Linked DNA regions of Homo sapiens: region 1 is linked to region 2. Evidence: fine-mapped expression QTL. Tissue or cell type: testis. Region 2 holds a variant in brackets; the other region holds the start of a gene. All regions are shown on one strand. Distances are between the middles of the regions. Region 1 holds the start of LINC02456 (long intergenic non-protein coding RNA 2456). Region 2 overlaps LINC02456 (long intergenic non-protein coding RNA 2456).

Evidence for each region. PIP is the estimated chance that this variant, and not a neighbour inherited with it, causes the effect. A credible set is the group of variants that fine-mapping cannot tell apart.
Region 1: it holds the start of LINC02456, and the variant in region 2 is the best candidate, but not a certain one, in a credible set for the expression of LINC02456 in testis (GTEx, PIP 0.80).

Annotation. Positions count from the first base shown.
Region 1 is chr12:102,278,075-102,280,997 of GRCh38, forward strand. LINC02456 (long intergenic non-protein coding RNA 2456) reads left to right here and starts at 1,500. Exons shown (of 13, transcript XR_007063427.1): 1 at 1,500-1,610.
Region 2 is chr12:102,548,360-102,551,282 of GRCh38, forward strand. The region is part of intron 11 of LINC02456 (long intergenic non-protein coding RNA 2456); the gene reads left to right. Among named protein-coding and RNA genes, the nearest start is that of IGF1, 69 kb to the left of the region's middle. The variant C/G (reference allele first, on the strand shown) is at 1,567.

The sequences.
Region 1 (2,923 bases), 270 kb before region 2:
TAATTTTGCCTAGTTCATAAGAAGCCTTTTTGATTTACTGATTTCATGAGTTTTCCCACAGATAAATAAGATAGTTATTTTATTATATCTTTATCACCTGTGTTCCATTTCTTCTGATCATTTCTTTAGAAACAAAGTCTTTTTATATCTATCATTTTCCTCCTTTGGATTCATTTACTTCATATTGTTGGATAATTTCTCAAGCATTTCTAACCTTACAAGTGATTTTTTTTGTCTACAGTGGTGTTGCTATTTTAATTTCTACTTGTAGTAATGTAGAAGATATTTATATGACATTATTTCCTTCATTATAGCTTTAAAATTTTTCTAGTTCTCTTTTGTCTCAGTATTTCATTGTTTTTGATTCAGGTTTCTTTCTGTACTTCCAGAATCCATAATTTTTGTAATTTTATTGAATATTAATTCATGATATAGTATTTTATGAAAATAATTGTATTTATTTTCATAAATACACTCATATCTTTCCTTGTTTTCAGAATTGTTATCAAGCAAATGGGTTCACTACCTGATGTACACAGAAACCAATAACTATAGCACTAGCTTTTGAGAAAAGAAAGACTTTATTGCAAAATGAGTCAACAAGGAGTCAGGAGTGAGCTCAAATCTGTTTCCTCAATCTGGGGTCTGGAGCAAGTGTATGGGCTTGGAGAGCAAGAGAAAAGATTTAGGAATGTAGATTTGTAGAATCTGATTGCAGGGGTTCAAATTTGACCAGTTATGGTAAGGTATATTGAAGTGAATTTTAGCTCTAGATCTTCTGGGTCAACAGACCCCTTGCTTCAGAAAGAGTTCTGGTATTATGGTTCCAGTCATGTTCCAGTCTTGTTGGCTTTGAGGAGAGAAATCATTTGTTTTGGGTATTGTTAGAGGTCAAAGCTTTTCCTGTTGTGCATGCCTGGGCTTCATGACTTGCAGTTTTTGGCTCTGTTACTACAAGGTAACTCAACATTTTGTTATTAACAACATGGGCCCAGTTTGGGCTGGTCCCAGAGTTACAGGATCTTTATATTGGTCCATTGTGATTTTATTTATTTTTCAAATTTTTTATAATCACTTTTAAAGTCTTAGATAATAAATAAAATTTAAATGATAGATTCCACTGAAAATAATTAGCCAAAACATAAAGCAGGTAAATTGCACCATTCAAACACATAATTCTTTTTAAACCTAAAAATAAGGAAGAAATACTTAAATCTTAGTTCTTTATTTGTACATAGAACTTTTTAACACTATATATAAATGTGAGAAATCATTTTGGCCAAAAAAGAAGTCAGAAGTCAAAATTCATAAAACAAACCTTAGGAATGTGGAGGTTAAGATATTTTCTGCCCTACCAATTAATTATTATTTATTAAAAGAAGTAGAGAGATCTGTATACATGAACAAAATTGAGACAACATGCAGGTATATCTGTTGACACCACTTAAAAAAACCCACATTTATTTTGAAAGGACTTGTGAACATCCAGTCAATAGAAAAATACATTCAGAAAACACTTACTGAACATTTATGATGTGTCAGACACTGTGTTAGAAACTTGGGAGGCAAAGCTTCTACGTCTAAGAAGCTCAGAGTCAAGTTGGGGGCAGGTAAGCACAAACTTTAAATATTTACAGTATTCTCTCTCTCTCTCTTTCTCTCTCTCTCTTTCTCCTCCCCAACCTGTTTTATCTAAACATGAGTTATACATGATATGTACAAGCTTATACATTCAGTTATGTGTCCCTTAACAGGGATATGTTCAGAGAAATGCATCATTAGGCCATTTCATCATTGCGTGAACATCACAGAGTGTACCATATGTACATAAACCCAGATGGTGTAGTGTGGTGTGGTGTACATAAACCTACTCCACACTTAGGCTATATGGTATAGCCTATTGCTCCTAGGCTACATACCTGTGCAGCATGTTACTGTACTGAATACTTTAGGTGTCTGTAACACAATGGTATTTGGGTATCTACACATATCTAAACATAGAAGAAGTGCAGTAAAAATATGGTATAAAAGATTCAAAAATGGTGCACCTGTATAGGGTACTTACAATAAATGGAACTTGCAGGACTCAAAGTTTCTCTGGGTGAGTCAGTAAGTGAGTAGTGAGTGAATGTGAAGGCCTGGGACATTACTGTACACTACTGTAGACATTATAAACACTGTGCACTTAGGCTACACTAAATTTATTAAAAATACTTTTCTTTATTCAGTAAGTTAACCATAGCTTACTATTAAATTTTTACTTTACAAGCTTTAAAATTTTTTAACTTTTTGATTCTTTTGTAATAACATTTAGCATAAAACATAACATATACACATTGTACAGCTATACAAAAATATTTTCTTTCTTTATATCTTTATTTCATAAGCTTTTTTCTATTTTTAATTTTTTACTTTTTAAAGTTTTTGGTAAAAACTATGGTACAAACACACACATTAGTTTAGGCCTTGTATTAGTCAGGTTCTGTAGAGGGACAGAACTAATAGGAGAGAGATATATAAAGGGAATTTTATTAAGTATTAACTCACATGATCACAAGGTTCTACAATAGGTCACAAGGTTTCACAATACGCCGTCTGCAGGCTGAGGAGCAAGAAGAGCCAGTCTGAGTCCCAAAACTGAAGAACTTGGGAGTCCAATGTTCAAGGGCAGGAAGCATCCAGCACGGGAGAGAGATACAGGCTGGGAGGCTAGGCCAGTCTAGTCTTTTCACGTTATTCTGCCTGCTTTATATTCAGTGGTAGCTGATTAGATGGTGTCCACCCAGATTATGAGTGGGTTTGCCTTCCCCAGCCCACTGACTTAAATGTTAATCTCCTTTGACAACACCCTCACAGACACACTCAGGATCAATACTTTGCATCCTTCAACCCAATCAAGTTGACACTCAGTATTAACCATCAC
Region 2 (2,923 bases):
TGAATCCCAAAGCTGTTAAAGGAATATAGATAATAGAATTCAGTGAACAATTATATATGGAGGGTAGAGAAAGACAAATTGAGGATGACTTCAAAGTTTCTGGTTTAGGTGAGCTGGTGAATATCAGTACCCATCATCATGAATAAGAAATGGAAGAGGATAGTTTGGTTTGCATGGAAAGACAAAGTTCATTTTGACAGAGTTTGAAGTGCTCATCGGACATCTGAGGAGTGGTGTGTGGGAGACAGTTGGAAAGAAGGATAGATTCAATGGAACAGGGAGTTTCAAGGAAGCAGTGGGCCCCAGTGCCAAATGGATTAGGAAGGTCAAGTAAGGTAAGGCGTGTGGAGCTACCACTGGATCTGTAAATACAGAGGTCAGCGTGACCTTGACAAGAACAGAGTCATTGGAAGGGTGGCTGGCAGCCAGACTGCTGTGGGTGAGGAAAGGAGGAAGTAAAATCAGCAAGGGGTGGCCTAGATTTCCAAGAATTTGCCTGGGAAGGGAGGGAGAGAGGGAGAGCAGGAGCTGCATGGAGATGGAGGAGAGAGAGGGGACATTTGTTGATGTATTTGCTTTTTTTCTTTCTTTCTTTTTTTTTTTTTAAAGAATGTGTGGTGTTTTGTTTTGTTTTTTTATGAGGTGAGAGAATCAGAGGAGAGAGGGAGGCTCAAGATTTAAAAAGAAGAGGAGCACTATTAATGGACCTAAGTGCCTAAGGGCAGCTAAACAAAGGACAAGTGGAAGGATTAACTTTAGAGGACATTTATTCTTTGAAAATAGCAGAGAGGAAGATAACAATGTTTAGAGAAATGGGCATATTTGCAGTCATGTGTGTGGGGTAGGAAACTGAAAAAATTTCATAATTATCTCAAAGAAGCACTAGCAAAAATCATTTGCCCAAGGAGAAGAGGGCTAGGAAACGAGTGAGACGGTGGAGGTTGGAATACCACTTTGGTAATCAGGGGGTAGAAGGGAAATTACATTCATGGAGAATTCACTATGTGTTAAGCACTGTGCTAGATCCTCATGCATAATAGTATTGGTAATAATAAATAATAGTTGAGGTTGGAACCCTTTGAATTCTTTGTAAAAAGTTGGTGCTCCATAAATATTTATTGAGTGATTGCAGTTTGCTTTATCGGCCCAGTTTGCAGGTAGGTCCCTCCTCTGATTCAATCAGTGAATATTAACTGAAAGTCTACTGTGAAAAAAATCCTGATTCTAGAAGCAGGGAGGAGGAAATGTGTGTCTTGGGAAGCTTAAGACAGTCCCTGCTCTCTAGGAACTTTCAGGATAAATGCTGAGACATCAGTTACTTTTATCCTTCCTTCCCCAGTGTCTCAAGATCCTGGGGGATATCCAGCATCTCGAATAGAATCTCAGATGACTTTGACCCCAGTTGTACACAGTTCATATAGTGGCTCTGGGTTCTATTACTATGACACCACCTCCCAGCAGTGGCTGTGAAGTTGCCTCGAGAAACATTCCTAATCCCAGGCCACTGGTTCTCACTGTGCGGCTCCCAACCCAGAGCATCAGTATCTTGTTTGAAGTGCAAATTCT[C/G]AGGCCTCACTCAGGAACTCTGGGGGATATAGCCTAGCAGTGTGTGTTTTCACAAGCCTTCCCAGTGACTGATGCTCACTCAAATTTGAGAATCACTTCCATCGACCAGGGCTGTCATGGTCTTGGCTGATCTCACGTCATTATAGGGACCTTTCTTGTGTGTTTGATACCAGTGCTTAGCATAGACATATAATAAATGTTCCTTGAAATCACTGGCCTTGATCAGGGCTGTGCATATGTGTGTATGGGTGTTGAGGAAAGGGTGCAAAGGAGAAGATCAGAGAGGGGAGGGGCATGCAGTTTTTGTCTTCTCCCTTTTCTCAGTGGGAAGAACATTGTGCTGAGAGCAGGTTGGTAACTTGGAGTAGAAAGATAGACAGACTTCTAGAATTGGCATGGAGCTTGGCAATGACTGAGACCAATGATTTGTAACTTCTTTTGGAGTGATAGATCTTTTGGGGAATAATAGTGTTGATGATAGTTATGATTATAGTTATTTATTGAGTGATTACTATGTACCAGCACCATGTGTTACGAATGTTATCACATTTAATCCTCATCAATAGGCTGTAGTTTATCTTCATTTACCAATAAAAAAAAAAGATGAGCTTAAATAGCTTTCCCAAAGTCACACAACTGGTAAGTGGTAGAGCTGGGTTTCAGATTTGAGATTTCTTTGTCTCTAGGCACTGAAACCACCAAGTCAGAGTGCGTAATATACAAGGAAGGCTTTAGACTCTCTCTCTCTCTCTCATGCACACACACATGCACACTTTTTTTTTTCAGAAATTTAAACATTGGCTTAATCAATGTTGATAATCAATGTCTCTTACCCATTACCTGTTACCCAAGGTAATTAATGTCTGTTGGCCATCTTAACTAGAGATTCCTGTCTCTCAGTTCATCTTCGCCTTAAGAGGAAACTCTTAAGTGCAGAAAGCCTGTTTCTTAGAACCCATTCTTCCTACAACTACTTTCCTCATTTCCAGCAAAGTCGTGGGGATCACTGGAAAGCACAAGGTGTTCTAAGATAGCGCACAGCATTCCATTTCACCTCCAAAAGATGTCAGTGTTTTTATCTCTCTCCCCACTTCCCTCCCTCCTTCCTTCCCTTTTTCTCTGCCTCCCTCTCCCTCTTCTTTCCCTTCTCTCTTTGTAAAAAGTTGTCTTACTCAGTTTCTTGAATGATCCCATGATGTTTTCTCCTTCATACTGTTACTTTGGCAAGAAGCAAACTACTGAGCATGTAGTGTACTGGATAAGAACTGAAGTACTTTCTTTTCTGTAAAGAAAGTGCGCATGTATCAGCTCTGTGACTATATTCCACATTGGCCCTGCTGGAGGGAAGATACTTTCT